Regions from separate parts of the Homo sapiens genome. Here region 2 is linked to region 1. Evidence: fine-mapped expression QTL. Tissue or cell type: whole blood. Region 1 holds a variant in brackets; the other region holds the start of a gene. All regions are shown on one strand. Distances are from middle to middle.

What was found. PIP is the estimated chance that this variant, and not a neighbour inherited with it, causes the effect.
Region 2: SCML4 starts here. The variant in region 1 is fine-mapped to the expression of SCML4 in whole blood (TOPMed, PIP above 0.99).

The regions. Positions count from the first base shown.
Region 1 is chr6:107,728,536-107,736,732 of GRCh38, forward strand. The region is part of intron 5 of SCML4 (Scm polycomb group protein like 4); the gene reads right to left. Among named protein-coding and RNA genes, the nearest start is that of SCML4, 92 kb to the right of the region's middle. The variant C/T (reference allele first, on the strand shown) is at 3,595.
Region 2 is chr6:107,820,717-107,828,913 of GRCh38, forward strand. SCML4 (Scm polycomb group protein like 4) reads right to left here and starts at 3,597. Exons shown (of 8, transcript NM_198081.5): 1 at 3,410-3,597. RefSeq lists an enhancer at 1,680-1,749.

The DNA of each region.
Region 1 (8,197 bases):
GAGGTGGAGGTTGCAGTGAGCTGAGGTTGCATCACTGCACTTCAGCCTGGGCAACAAGAGCAAAACTCTGTCTCAAAAATAAATAAATAATTATAAAGAAAGAAACTACTGATGCCCGTGGGTGAGATCAAAGGTAATAAAAGCTAACCTCTGGGCTGTGATCCAAATGAATTATCAGAAGGGAAAATAGGCTTCGGAGGGCATCAAGCAATACCTTCTACCCAGGCAAAGGATGTGCTGGTGGTTCCAAAGTCTGCCCAGGTGGACAACTGTCAAGACAAATCAACCAAGCCCCAGATGTGGCTCTGTAAAGTGGCTCCTGGGTGGCCGCGAGTGAACAGCACGTTCAGATGCACACACTGTGGTGGCTTCCAGAATTGATGAAATGGATCTGTTCAAACCCGATTGAAACTGCATTTTCCGCACTTTTCTATAGAGGGGTTCTGATACATCATAGCTAAGCGTAAAAGTGACAGATGCATGGATGGCCCTCATCATTCGGTGGCAGGAAGGAAAAGGACCTTCACAAGCACCCAGCCCAGCATTTCCCCAAATGTTAAATGCTTTCCACTGGCGGGACAGGGAACCACATGGGTATATTCATTTCCTAGGATTGCAGAAACTAACAAACCGGGTGGTTTAAAACGACAGAAATTTATTCTGCCATAGTTCTGGAGCCTACCAGTCTGAAATCAAGGTGTCCACAGGGCCAGGCTCCCTCTCAGGACTCTAGGGGAGAATCCCTCCTGGCCTCTTTCTAGCATCCCCTGGTGGCCAACAATCTTTGGAGTTCCTTGGCTGGAGACAGCGCTCCAATCTCTGCCTCCACTGTGGTGTTTTCTCTGTGTGTCACGATCTGTGTCCAAATTTCCTTCTTCTTCTAAGGACACCAGTCATGGGATTAGAGCCCTAATTCAGTATGACTTCCCTTTCACTTGATTACATCTGCAAAGATCCTATTTCCAAATAAGATCCCATTTCCAAAAAGGGTTCCAGATACCCGAGAATTTGAACATACACGATTCAGCCTACGACAACCAGTAAATGTTTTTTTATTGTCATGTATTTCAATGTACATCCACGACATATAATTAGCACATCAAACAAAATGATTTCACTGATACAGTATGATTGCTTAAGCTGACTAATGGCTAAGATTAAAAGACATGAGTTAATGTAAAGGAATATCTTGAGTAGACAGTTCTATAAGTGTTACTCAGACACAGTAGAAATTGTGAAGGTGGTAAATTAATATTTGGAATGCATTGAGCTAGCCCCAACCTATCTCTTCAGGCAGGGTGTTGTCTAGAAAAGAAACTATGGTAGATAACTGAGTCTTTTATTTGAAAGCTTCCCCAAAGAGATTTTACAATCTCCTTTAGAGTGAGGCCATTGTGCTATGAATCTCATTGCCTAAAAGTTCCTCCTTACATCTAGCCTCAATTCTTCTTGCTTCAGTTAAAACACATGACTGCTGGACATGTACCCTTTACACTATCCAACATGTTAGGTCACCTCAACATCCAACATGAGGCAGATGAATTCTAGGTATGCAGAACTACTAGGAGCTTAAGAATTTAATTGAACTGTGACATATGTTTCTTACCTAAATCCAATATTTAAAGTCAGTAAAAAGAAAGGACCAAGTCTGTATCTGGAGAGGGAACCCCCACTTTTCAAGCGCTTTTGTGGCTGACTGGTGAGCAAACACCAGATGGGGCCAGCCGACCTGTTGGAGGATCTAACTCCTGCACACAGAGTCCCGGCAGACCGTAGGGCTCACAGGCGAAGGCACTCATGGTCGAAATTTCCTCCTGTGTCCATACAAAATCGTTTTCCATCTGAAAGAAGCTGTCTTGTCACCCTGGCACTGCTCATCAACAAGAGGCTCCAACCCAGCCTGTGTGAGGCCATTTAATTGCAGTGGAGAATGCCAGCTTAACAAAGCAAGGTAAATGAGTGGCTTTTTACTCACTTCTGTAACCCTCTGCATCCAGCCAAGAGACTAATGTTGCCATTTAAGAATCATTAAATCTTTTCCTCCAGAAAAAAAGAATGATCTGCCTTTTGCACAGTCACGAGAGCATGCTTAAATAGAAAGGAAAACACACACGTGGCCCCATCAAAGAAATCTGCCACATTTTCAAGGTTTGGCGTCCTGGGAGCTTTCAGGACAGACTGATGGTCCTTTTTCACCATCGCTAAACCTGCTTGTGGACTATGGTTCCCTCCAGCCACTGTGTATAAAGCCTGCCTATTAGTGAGGCCAAAGAACACTCTAGAAGCATGTAAACCCACTCAAGCCTCAAGGCATACCTGTTTGCATATGAACCTGAACTGTGCCTAAGCCTTCCGGTTTAGGGATCAAAGCTTCAGGGTTCTGAGTCCAGAGTGTGTGGATTCCTCCCTTGCTCCCTGATCCTTGCTGAAGCCTGGGGTGGAGATAGGGTTAGGTAATGCCCCTGCATCCATGGCTTCCAGGACACCCAGGTGCAGCCCATTTCTGCTACAGTCCTGGAGGGTCAGGTGTGAGCCCCTGAAATGTAGAGAACCTCCAAAGAGAGAAGCAGAAAGAGGAAGAGGTGCAGGAGAAAGCCACGAGCCAGAGAGAGAAAGAGAAAGTCCCAAAACAGAGCGGCAGGGAGGGGAAAACGGACCTTATGTATAAAACTATAGATGCTCCTGACCAAGTGTCAGCTCTCCTCACTTAGGACACAAGGCTTAACTGCTTACAGCCCAGTGGGCTCGGACTATTGATTTTATTTTTAAAAACTAAACTGGCATTTTACCTGGATTCACTAACCAAATGAAGTCCTGAAACACAACAATTCCACTATGCAAAATTATTCTCACATAATACCTATTAAGGCAATAAGAACCACAACATCTAGTCTTAGACACTATTTGTCATCTCTAAACAGTTCTGCCTGTTTGTCTTTCTCTCTCTCTCTCACCCCCCACTTCCCGCATCAGTCTTCCCAGTTGAGGGAGCAGCTGCAGAGTGAGCCCTTTCCACAATCAGCACGACCACCTTCCTCCAGACTGGGAGCCCTGGCCTTGCTCAGGATTGATTGCCTGACCCCTTTGCCGGTCTGCCCAGCCCTGCCGACCCCCACACCCTGCCCAGGCAATGGTCAGTGTCCTGTGGCCTCCGTGTGTGAACAGTTTGGTTCGGCTTGCTGACAGAGATGGCAACATCAGAGATTCCTAGCCCTGAAACCCAGATTAGAAAAGGCAGGAGTGCAGTTCGCAGATTTGTAGAGCTGTGGAGCAGCTACCCCTCTTTGCTTAGCCAGGTGCCATCACCTAGATAGTACAGGAAAAGGAGACCTGCGAGGAGAGGGGCAGGAGGGAGAAGGCGCAGGAAGCAGTAGCAGGTGCTCGTGCCAGCTGCACCTCTTTTACTCAGAGCCCAGACACAGGTGCTTCGGTGCCTACCTTGGTGGTTGTGTCTCTGCCACCCGGCAGCCTCTCCCACTGTCCTCTGGGGGACCGCCGGTTTCCAGCACGTGCTTGGTGCTGTGGGATGCAGAGGGGCCTTCTGCTGTGAATCTCTAACGGACTTCCTGGTGACCAAAACCTGAAGGTTTCCTC[C/T]CCTGCATGCAGCCTTTCACTGAGGCTCCTGTGGAGGTTTGCAGATTTTCTTTTCTCAAACTCAGTCCCGCCCCTTGTTCTTGCAGATAAGGGAGTTTTCCCTTAGGGCCCTCTGTGGCCTCCTGGCCCAGCCTTTCTGGTTCAAAGGGCACAGGGCCATACTACCTATGAGGCTGAGCATTTCATTTGCTTCAATTAAATTTTCCATTAACTTGGTCTCTGGCCAGTATGGATTTTCTCTCTAAGGTTGTCTCTGCAGTTCAGATCACTCAGCCCTGAGAATCAACCTTATGACTCCCCTCTGGTCCATTTAAGTACATTTCTATTTTTTCTCCCCTAATGAGATGCACAGCAACCGACCATAATTTTAATGCCTGACACCTGAACTTCTTACATCCTCTCAGATGTTTCTGGTTTGCCTAAGACTTTGTTCTAAGCCTAGGGGTTGATTTCCTCCTTTGGAAATTTTGACCAAAGGCATTTTTGACCAAAGTCATCTGTTTGGGATAATGAATGGCCTTTCTGTGCTCTCGGGAGGAGAGCAGGTTCCATACCACCCTCCATATGATCTCGCAGCTTTGCCAAACCTCCACGCCAAGCTTATGAGAATTCCCGAGAGCTGGGGGAGGCGAAGTGGGTGGGACATCCTGTGGTCACGCTGTTTCCTCCACAGCCCCCACAATTTTTTGGTCTTTCATAGAACCTTGGGGAAATTAAAAGTGGTCCTTAATCAGGAAAATGCTGAAGTTCCTGGAATAGAGGACGCCTTGTAAGTTTCCTTTCTAAATGGACATCTCGACTTTGAGAGAGGTTCACAGCACTCCTAGCATTGCTCACTCTGGTGGAGCAAGTTGCTGTGCTGTGAGATGCTCTGCAAAGGGACCCATCTGGCAACAAACCAACAGCTCATTGGAAACTCAGTCCTGCTGACAACCATGTGAAAAAGCTGGAAAAGTGGGTCCTGCCCTAGTTGAGGTTTGAGATGCAGCCTTGTGAGAGATTCAGAACCAGAAGGCCTGTGGCTGCACCTGGTCCCCTGACCCACAGAAGCTGTGAGACCCTAAATGTTATTTTAAGCCCCTAAGTGTTGGGGGTAATTTATGACACAGCAAAAGATAACTATTGTGGACAGAAGAAAGGAAGCCGTTTCATTCCTCTTGATTCTGCATGTCCAGATTGGAAGTTGTCATTATTAACTCAGCAGTAGCTAGGATAGATCTGGTACAGAGTATCTGCCCACTTCTCTGCCAGGGAGTTTATGTTTGTTTGTTGTAGTTTTTTTCAGCAAAGGGTTTGTTGCTTATGAATGAAACACAGAAAGCACCACTATTAGGAGAGAGTTCATGAAGTTCATCTTAGAAGCCTACTGGTTTCCTAAGCTGCTTCAGCTCCTCTTGGCATGGTTTGCCATTCTAACCCTAGTTCTCAAGCATGGACAACAGATAATGGTGTGAGTAGCCTGCAGATAGCAGTACCTTAGGGTCCGCCACAGGGGCTCAGGGTTGTGGTCCAGGGGAATAACCAGAAGGGGTCTCTAATACAACCTGTGCAGGTCCTGGAGGCCTCGAATGGCTGCATCTCACATACCCTGTCCCTTTGTTTCCACCAGTCCTTGTGCTTCCACTGTTCTGAGGTATAATCAGAGAACTTGGTTTCCAACCCCTTGGATCTACTTAGATGCCTGGCCCATCTCCCGGACCTACTCTTCTGTCAGAGGCAGGAGCCTCTTTGGACAGGCTCATCAGAAACAGAACATCTTCTGCAGTGGACACAGACACAACTATTTGATAGAGAGGCTGGGAGACCCCCGGCCATCTGGCCAGCTCTAATGGCTCACGGAGAATCGAGGAGTGGGGGCGCCACATGAGGGACTGTTCGCCTCATGGAACACAGGAGATTTCCAGTAGATTTTGTTATTTGAGGAGTGGGCATAGGGTAGAGGTAGGGGTGTCTTTCAGAGGATTCCTGGGGTCAGCCTTCTAGGAAGAAGGAGTCCATTTGGCCTCTTTTTTTCAGGCTTTTTATCTCCTCCACACCCCCAAACAGTAGAAAGCCTGCAAGGGGTTTACCACCAGCATCATTCTACTCCTCAAGTCTCAGGTGCTGGCATCTTTAATCCACAAAATAAATTGTGATTTAGACAAGAAGAGTGTTCACTTCTTTTGTTTGTTTGTTTGAATACAGTTACTTTCTACCAAAATTTTATCAAAGGGGTCAACGTGACTCAATATTACTCTAGTTCATATTGAAGATACCTTGGGCGATTAAAACAACTTAATTGGAACATTCATTCATTGGTTAATAGTTATGGAGTAAATAACTTCCTCGGTATCTACAGGACATGAGAGAGAACCTGAGCCTTACAATGCAAAGGGATCCAATCAACTGCTGGACATAATAGAGAATCCATTTTAAATTCTACGAAATGCAGGCTTTTCTCTGGAGGCACCTTCTTTAAAAAAGAGATTACATTTTTCCCTTTTAGTTCAATATTTTAAAATATGTACAGATATCATAATTTAATGAAAGATATCACTGAAAATATAAAGCTTTTCCTAAATGAATTTACATAGGCACATGGGGAGAATTAGGATGAGGACTCCTACCCTGGAGAACACTCCCTATTCCATGGTGTAAGGGTTCTAGCTTGGCCTCTATGGCCCTAAGTGTCAGGAAAAATATGAAGGCTTTTGTATTTTCTACAAAACTGATGGACACTTTTTAGTTTCTTTTTGTTGTTGTTGTTGTTATTGTTGTGGTTTTTGAGAAGGAATCATGCTCTGTCACCTAGGCTGGAATGCAGTGGCACAATCTCAGCTCACAGCAACCTCCACCTCCTGGGTTCAAGAAATTCTCCTCCCTCAGCCTCCCGAGTAACTGTGATTACAGGCATCCACCACCACACCTGGCTAAGTTTTGTATTTTTAGTAGAGACACGGTTTCACCATGTTGGCCAGGCTGGTTTCAAACTCCTGGCCTCAAGCAGTCCACCCACCTCGGCCTCCCAAAGTGCTGGGATTACAGGCGTGAGCCACCGAGCTCAGCCTCTTTTTCAACCTTTTCATCAAAACCTTCTGCAAGGATTCTTAAGACCAGAGCTTGTCAATAGTTTATTCTCCTTCCAAATGACCTCCTTTCCAATGCTCAGCTTGAGAATGAGACAGCTCATTTGTCCATGTGGCCCTTGGCTGTGACAAACACAGCTCCACAATGTTCCAGTCATGTGGCCTGCACTGGGACACAAGCAGGTGCAAAGGCATCTGCAGGAACGCACCTCTCTTCATTCCTTTCCTTTCTTTCTGTTTTTGAGGGCGGGGGGATTCCAGTTCTGTTTTTTTTTCTTCAAGTTTTTTTTATTGTGGTAAAACACATATCACATAAAGTCATGGCCCGACACAGTGGCTCACTCCTGTAATCCCAGCACTTTGGGAGGCTGAGGCAGGTGAATTACTTGAGCTGAGGAGTTCGAGACCACCCTGACCAACATGGCAAAACTCCATCTCTATTAAAAATACAAAAATTAGCCAGGCATGGTGGCAGGCTCCTGTAATCCCAGCTACTTGGGAGGCTAAGGCAGGAGAATCACTTGAACCCTGGAGGTGGAGGTTGCTGTGAGCCGAGATCACGCCACTGCACTCCAGCCTAGATGATGGAGCAAGACCTTGTCTCAAAAAAAAAAAAAAAAATTATCATCTTTACCATTTCTAAGCATACAGCTCAGTGATATTAAATACATTCAAAATGTTGCATAACCATCATCAGCATCTATCTCCATAACTCGTCTTGTAAAACTGAAACTCTATACCCATTAATCAAGAACTCCCCCTTTATTTCTTTTCTTTTTCTACCCATCATTCCACATATTAATTCAAACACTAGATCAAACTCTGCCACTGTCTGGTGGAGTAGGCTACTTGTGTGGGTTTTGTAGAAATGAGGAAGTTCCCTGGCAGCTGGAATGATGGGCTGTGCCTGCCCCGTGGTTGTCATCCAGCCCCGATGTAGCCAGAACACAAGGACACGGGGAAAACATCCCGTGTGGGAAAGGCAGGAAACCCAGGAGGAGAAGAGAATTGATCTTCCTAGAGTGTAGTTTCCTCCTTGATTTTGCTAAATGAGGGCTGGGGTTTGTTCTGTTCTTTCACATCTTTGCTAGAAGCAACACAGGTGTACCACAAGCCCCTTGTGGACATCTATTGTGTGCAGTCAGCCCTCTGAGCTGAGAAACAGGGATGCACACCCCACGCAGCCAGTGCTGGATAACGGGCCTTACAGACAGCAGAAAAACTTGGAATAAGGAAAAACTTGGAGAGGAAAAGCAAAGGGCCGGGGATGAGAAGACCTGCTCTCGGTTTCCTCCCTGCTGCTATCTTGCTGTGTGTGTGGCTCTAAACAAGTGACCTGGGCCCTGTGCGCCTCGCTGCATTACCAACAGGGGAGCTCAGCACTATCTGCCAACTGACTAAATGGATGGGTCCATGTAATGAAACTCATGCCTCTTGATGAACTCTGTTCCCTTTTAAAAATAAATGATCTTTTGTAAAGATAGACATTCTCCATATATTCTCTGTAATGTTATTCTACTAGATAAATGTGTTGTTGG
Region 2 (8,197 bases), 92 kb after region 1:
CTTGGTATGGGCGTATCAACAAATGCAGGGTTCCCCACAGCGATTTACAGCAGAGACTCTAGTAGAGATTTACAGCAGACTGGAGCACTGCGCTCTTGCAAATGCAGAAGTTTGGGGTGGGGAAAGGTAGAAAAGAAAAAAAAGAAGAAGAAGGAGAAAGTGACATATTCAAATGCGATTCAAACATTCCAAGCTGCTCTTTTGACCTCAGAAATTTTACCACGATTTGGGTGATCCTAATGGTCTGTGGACCACGTTGGAAAATGTCACAATAGATGTTTGAATTAAAATCCAGTAGGTTTGCCAAAAGACCAATTGTTAAAAATTGGCAGCATTCCAGAGAACTTACTAGGCTGTGTACTGCCCCGGGGCTGAGAGAACTGCTAATTCCAGAGAAAGTTAATTATCACCTTATTGATAAAAGGGTAATTTTTAAAGCTTGTGGTGTGGCTTTTGTGACTCATTAATTAAAATTTAGAGTAATTTACTAGATACCCTGGTGGCTTCTGTTATATGATATCTGTACCAAGCCGTTTAATGTCTCTCCCAGGGGCTGATTTAATCCCCCTCTTCTCTCCTCACCTGTCTGCTTTTGAAGGCAATGAAAACATTAAAAAATGTGTAAATCTAAAACTAGCCTTTTGAGAGATGGCAGAATTAAGAAATAAGATGTCTAGGGAGGCATTGTTTAAAAGTTCCTTCTTAGAAACATCAGATGTGCCCACCAAAAGAAAGAAGCTTGTGTGATCACACCAAAGGCAACTGCTTTCACAAACTTCATCCACAAAATGTTAGACAAGATTTTACGCTCCATGATAATCAGATTAAAAGAGGGTCTTTTCTCATCTCCTTTCCCTTCTTTCCCATTCCATCCCCACATAAAATCTGAGGGCTCAGGGGAAGAATGACACTGGAGATGCTTGGTATCCTAAGGCTCCCAGCCCAATGAGGGGTAGTGTCACCTGCCACGCTCTTCAGGACTTGTGGAGTGGGATGGGCACATCCCGGCTCCCTGGCATCTACCCATGTGATATTGAGGTTTCCGAGGGCAGGGACTTGGGGAGGAAAATTGTCCTGCAGATCCCTAACAGGGCCCCTGTGAGGGCTTTCAAGCTCCAGCCACCACCTCTGCCTGGACCAAAAGTTCTTTAAGGTGCGTGTCATAAAGGATGTGTGGACACATGTGTGATGTGTCCTCAGGCCACACAAAATTGTAAACAGACCTACGAAGCACTCTAACATTTAAGCCCCCAGACTCCCAGAAAGGTTATTCCTCTCCGAGCATTCCTTGTTATGATTTCAGGGAACTTCAGTTATGTTTCCTTAAAAGTATTGAAGTATTTGAGATCCAAAATTGAGATTAAAAATACATAAACAGCAGAGATGATTTTCTCATCATTTCAAATTTTAAAAATTAAAAAAGTCTATCTTTGTACTTTGGGGTAGTGCTTGAATTTTTTAATAGGAAAGTGTTACTGAGTATTTTTTTAAAGTCAATATTGTTTTGAACTCTCATTATAAAAGTTCTTGCAGCAAGTGACAGTATTTGGGTCTGGCTTGTTTTCTGTGGGCTGAGCTGCTTAGCTTACCTGCTGCTTGCTAGAGGAGACAGCCTTTCACCCTCACCCCCAGGAGTCAAGAACCAGAAAGTGAAACTGCTTCTGCTGATTTCCCTCGCCTCGAAAACACACCACCAAAAGCAAAGAAATGATGAAAAGCAACTTACTCGTTTCGCTTATTGTTTTCTTGTCTTTCTATTACCGTTCATTTACTCTTTTCTTTTTTTCTTTTCTTTTTTTTTTTTTGCAGCAAAATAAAAGTAATTTTGGGGACACAGGGAAGAAATGTAAACATGTTATACATGAAAGAACTGGATTTTTGTGGGCTTTGCACTTTTGTTATAATTCCACAAATGAAGCAAACTGATGAATTTACCAAAATATTTCAGAGCTCATCTACGTACACAATTTAAAGAGCTAAAGAAAACACATTCATATTTTTTAAAAATTCTGTCAAAAAGCCTGTTTAAAAGTTATAGTTTGTGAAGCCACCAATTTCCCTAAAACTGAAGATTCTACATTAACCTTTTGAGTTTAGACGATCACGCAGTACCGATTTTCTAGGTAATCTTCACCCAGCTGCTGTTGCTCAAACAGCCCCTCATTTTATCAGACTAGTTCTACCAAGCAACACAAAAAATGCTCCACACAAATATTATACCCCCCAGATAGTTTAACACACTAAGAATTCCTTTGTAGTTATTTTTATGCTTTCACTCCAGATATTCTATTTTGCTTTAAAAAAAAAAAAGTGGAGAAAAAAAGCAGCTATATCCCTCATTCTTCAAAAATGGTTCCTCTGGTTGAAAAGAAAGAAAAACAGCATATAACAAATACCCTGATTCTGAAGTGCCTGGATTACTTTCTCAAGTACTGTAGTGTCTGAGATCAGTAAAAAACCACTTTCTCAGAAAGCCACTGATTGTCTAACCCTCATGAGTACCGTCATGGAATCTAGAGACAACACGAGGAGACACCTCTCGTTCACGATCACAGATAGTGGAAAGAACTTTGACTCAAGCACCTCAACTCAGCAAAACAGCTCAGCAGCCTGCACCCTGGCCTCATCCACCGCTCCTGTCCAGCCAGCAATCAACCTGGAGAGGACCCCTCATGCTTTGGGAGGAGCACGTGGAAGCTGGTTCAAGTCACAGTGCTCCACCTGGGAAGGAGGTGATTTTGAGCTTGGGAAAACTGCCGCTAATACTCCATAGTCACCAGTTTTTTTCCCAAAAAACGAATTAAAACCAGAAACTAGCAGTAAATATTATTCTTATTTATGCCTCATAAATTAGGAAAAACCAGCACAAAGACATGTGAAATATTCTACCTGGGATATTTGAAATAAAATTAAATGGGAAAAAAAACACTTTTACATGTTCATAACATACCAATTTTAATAACCAAATTTTAGGTAAATATTTTTATCCCAAGACATAGTACAATTTTTTTAAAATTAAAAAGCAAAACAAAGCAAAATTATCGTGAAGGGAAAAAATAACTAACCGGTTACTTGAGTTCACATTTGGAAAAAAATAACTTTCTAGGTATTTAAATGCAGAGTTAAAGAGTAATGAACATGTATATAGCCCAAATTTATAAACTATATAATTCAATGTTACATTTTCCCCTCTGAGATCTGGTTAATAAATTAAATGCTGTACTTTGCATATGAGGAACTAAAGTTTACCTACTGGACTCAGTGGTTTTAGTGCAGGACACTCTTGTGCGTTGCCATAGAGGTAGGCATGCAACCCAGAAAAAACTGAAACAGGTAACCTGTCATGCTGACAGTTACAAGAGAAAGATCCCGTGTCAACGGCACGCCTCCAATTGTGCATCTCCCTTACCTACAGCTTGTTCACCAGAGCCCTGAGCAGGTTGTTTACCAGGTCGGGAGTGTTGACTCAGAAGACAGATGACTTTCAGCACATGCAAACCGAGTATTGCAAAAGCTATCTTCCACCCGTGTTAGTAGCTCACAGTTAGTCTCCAGCAGCCCTGCGCTCCAGCTGCAAACATCTCATTAGACTAATGCATTCAGCACAGGCAGAAAACTCGATTTACCATAGCTACAGCAATGAATTTCCATTACGATGACAGCTTCAACCACATCATGTCCGGAAAACCAGCCAACCACTGGCTTTTAAAGAACACACACATTTTACATGCAGAAAACGAGGCCTCTGTGTGTGTGTGTGTGTGTGTGTGTGTGTGTGTGTGTGTGTGTGTGTGTGTGTGTTTTGTGTTTCCTTCCTCTTAGCAGCCTAAGAGAAATGTGCAGTGTAGCTTTTTGTCGACATGAGCTGCAAGGTAATGACACTTCTGCTTCTTTGGTAGTTACATCCTTGTAATAACCTGAATTATGTCACAATGGTTAGAATGGGTGTTTCCAACATTTCAGTTTTCATTACCCCTCCTCTGTTGCCATAGAAACCAGACTGTAACATCGTCTCTTTGTCCCAATCCTGCAGCAGTGTGGGCCAACACCAGGCTTATAAGACACTGGTGATCTGACAGAGTGAATGTTTGACTTTGGACAAATAAAACAAAAAGAAATATTACAATAGCATCATTGTTCAGGAGACCCTGTGTGATTCCCAGAGCAGTGTGCCTATCCAGGTGTGTGCACACACCATGGTTGTACATATTAAATCAGCGGCTGCCCACAACATATGTGTACAGTTCATTAAAGCCGGCCCTGACTTTGGCTCCAGGCCTGTATGTGTGTGTGTGTAAGCATCTCTACCCACCTCAACGTGGTGGGACCTGCACAGGATAGAAACAGGGCAAGAGTGACTATTCATTCCCATGCCCCATTGCATTTTCTGCAGCAAATCAATATATATCGGCGAAGGGATCTTTTCTTTTCCTTTCTTTTTGTAAAGTGGAGCAGGGCTCCCCATTGCCCATTTCATCCACTCTGGGATATTGGCATATTCACAGGTATTTCCTACAAGATGAAACATCCATTCTACAAACATGTGGCTTACTCCTAGGGATGAGCAGCAAACAAATTTAGCCGGGACTAAATATCAACCAGGGCTAACGAAGGCTTAGGCCACAACCTGGCCAGTTACTGAGAGTGAAAAAAACTGCAATGGACAACTTGAGGTTTCTCTAAATATATGTGTAGAGTCACATTAGAAGTACATAAGAAATCTCTCCTCTGAAATTTATTATGAAAATATAAAAAATTGTTTTAAGTCAAAGCCTTGTAATTAATTGAGCAAGAAGAAATTCACTACTTTAGTTCATTTAATCATCAAATTTTGTTGTTTTGTATGGGAAAAGGCAGGTTTGGTAGTTTGCATTTTCATTTCATATAAGTTGATTTCACTAAAGAAGGAGGAAGAGGAGAAGAAAAGAAAATAAGATGGATGGGCCAGGTGCAGTGGCTCATGCCTGTAATCCCAGCACTTTGGGAGGCCAAGGCGGGTGGATCACGAGGTCAGGAGATCGAGACCATCCTGTGAATGGTGAAACCCCGTCTCTACTAAAAATACAAAAAATTAGCTGGGCGTGGTGGCGGGCGCCTGTAGTCCCAGCTACTTGGGAGGCTGAGGAGGGAGAATGGCGTGAACCCGGGAGGCGGAGCTCACAGTGAGCCGATACCGTGCCACTGCACTCCAGCCTGGGTGACAGAGCGAGACTCCATCTCAAAAAAAAAAAAAAAAAAAAGAAAATAAGATGGATGGGCTAGGTGTGGTGGCTCATGCCTGTAATCCCAGCATTTTGGGACTCCTGGACTTGAGGTTAGGAGTTCGAGACCAGACTGGCCAACATGGTGAAACCCCATCTCTACTAAAAATACAAAAATTAGCCAGGCTTGGTGGCGCTTGCCTGTAATCCCAGCTACTCGGGAGGCTGAGGCAGGAGAATCGCTTGAACCTGGGAGGGAGAGGTTGCAGTGAGCTGAGATCACGCCATTGCACTCCAGCTTGGGTGACAAGAGTGAAATTCCATCTCAAAAAAAAAGAAAAAAGAAAGAAAAAGAAAAGAAGAAAAGAAAAGAAAAGAAAGAAAAGAAAAAGAAGAAAAGAAAAGGAAAGAAAAGGAAAGAAGATGGATGATTTAAGTTTGGACAGCATCTCTGTCCCAGCGACAGCGGTTATTATACTCACACCCGTGGCCTCACACATGCCACACTACACTGAGCTTAAAGCACCTGGAATGGGCTGAGACATTAGACCAATTTTCACTCTAAAATGTTTCTTAGGATTAAAAAAAATAACATTTCTTAAGTAATCAGAAATAATCTCCAAGTCCTGTAAAAGAAGTAAAAGGGTTGGCAGAATCTACCCATAAGAAAGGAGTTGCTGGTTTTCCTACCCAGCTCTGTGAGGGTTTCTCACTCTGATCCTCAGGCCCAACCTCCTTGCCTCCTCCCAGATGGGCTACTGTTGTCCTTGTCCTCAAGGTGGGTGCATGTGGGAAGCACCCATTGTCATCTAACAGGTCAACTTGGTAATAAAGCCTAAAATTGAAATCAACAAAAGCTGGATTGCTTGGGCGCGGTGGCTCACGCCTGTAATCCCAGCACTTTGGGAGGCTGAGGTGGGCAGATCACAAGGTCAGGAGATCGAGACCATCCTGGCTAACACGGTGAAACCCCGTCTCTACTAAAAATACAAAAAATTAGCTGGGAGTGGTGGCAGGCGCCTGTAGTCCCAGCTACTTGGGAGGCTGAGGCAGGAGAATGGTGTGAACCCGGGAGGCGGAGCTTGCAGTGAGCCGAGATCACGCCACTGCACTACAGCCTGGGCGACAGAGCGAGACTCCGTCTCAAAAAATATATATATTTTTTATATATATGTATATATTTAAGTAAACAATATTTATTTACTTAAATATGTTATTCAAAATATTTGATATTTAATAAATTATTCATTAAATTATGTAATTTAATAAATTTAATAAATATGTAAATATATTTATTTAAATATATCTTTATATTTTTATTTAAATATATTTACATTTTTATTTAAATATATATTTACATTTTTATTTAAATATATATTTGTTTTTTACTTAAATGTATATTTTTATTTAAATATATCTTTATATTTTTTACTTAAATTTTTTTATTTAAATATATCTGTATATACACACATTTATTAAAATATATATATTTAAACTTACTGGGATTTCTTTCTTCATGCAACCAGGAACATAGCTTTTAATAACTTAAATCAATATTTTAAAAAATCCTAAATGTTTTTAATTCCAAGAAAAATTTAAGTTAAACATGTAAGAAAAAAGAAATTTGATGGGATGACTGGTATTAGCTGAGGGACCTGCTAAGAAGAAAAGTGACCGCTCTGAGCTAGCATCTCTCTAAGTCTTGTACATCCCTGTCCCATGAAAAGGGTGCTTAGGTTGTGCCACGTTGTTAATTTTCTTTGCACTGTGGTTACATTTCTGTCTCAGACCACAAGCAGCATGTTCCACTCTCTCCACACGAGTGCTACTGGGCTGGTGGTTAGCAGGAGGCAACCAGAGGGAGCAAGTTAATTTGGGGGCGTCCCAAATGCAAATCTACTTAGAGTAGCCTCCATTTGAAGAGTAATCCTTCTGTCAGCTGCTGGTAAAGACACCGTTCACATTGAAAATGGCCTTTGTCCTAAAGAGTTGTGTTTTCCAACACAAGCATCCGATCGAGAGGATTCTGTCTTGGACTGGCAGTCAGTGCTACCGCCGAAACAACCTTTGTTATAACAGTGATAGCTAACATTTACTGAAGAATTATGTGTGAAGCCCTTCCCATTTTGTATCCCATTTATGACAATCCTATGAAGTAGGTATTATGATACCATTCCCATCTTACAGATAAGGAAACTGAGACTTAGGGATGTTAAATAACTTGCCCAAGGACACACAGCTTAGAAGTGGTAGACACAGGTCTGACCCAGGCAGTCTGTGCCCAAAGATACTCTAATTAATCATTCCACCTCATGGATCCTGGCACTGCCACTTGTTCCAGCCCTACCACTAACCCAATGACATGGGTGAAATCATTGACTTTCTATAACACGGGACAAGGAAATAAGGGACTAGATCATCTTTGTGGTCACTTATGGCTCTGACATTTCACAAGCCTAAGAACTGCTTTATCTCTAACTCAAAACATCGGTCTGCTGAAACAGGATGACGCTTTGGGTTGGAGGAGTGCTTAGTTGTGATTATGGATATGGCCATAATTACAAAGGGGCAAAAAGTGTCCTTTCTCTCATTAGGATAAGACCTAGTAAACTAGAGCTTTGGATATCAATTTGGAGCAAAGGTAGGGAGGAGAGAGCATGGAGAAAGAACACGAAGAAAAGCTAAGATTCCATTTCTGTAGTAAGGAAGGGAGAACAGCCTCCCACACTCCAGAGGCCCCACAGCTTCCCTTCCACATCATTCAACACAAGTTTGAGAACCTTAGGGGCTATGGAAAGCATAAGGCTTATGATTACCATTTTGCAGCAAATAGTTAACCTAATTAGTCAGACTACACAAGAGTGGGTGCCAGATCTCTTGACTCCCCAGTCTGTCGCTTCTTCAACCCAAAGGCCTGCCTTTCATGGGGCCAGATCTTAGCTTCAACTACTCAAGCAGGGATCTTTTAAAGTTAAAGACAAAACCGTTCTGTGTAG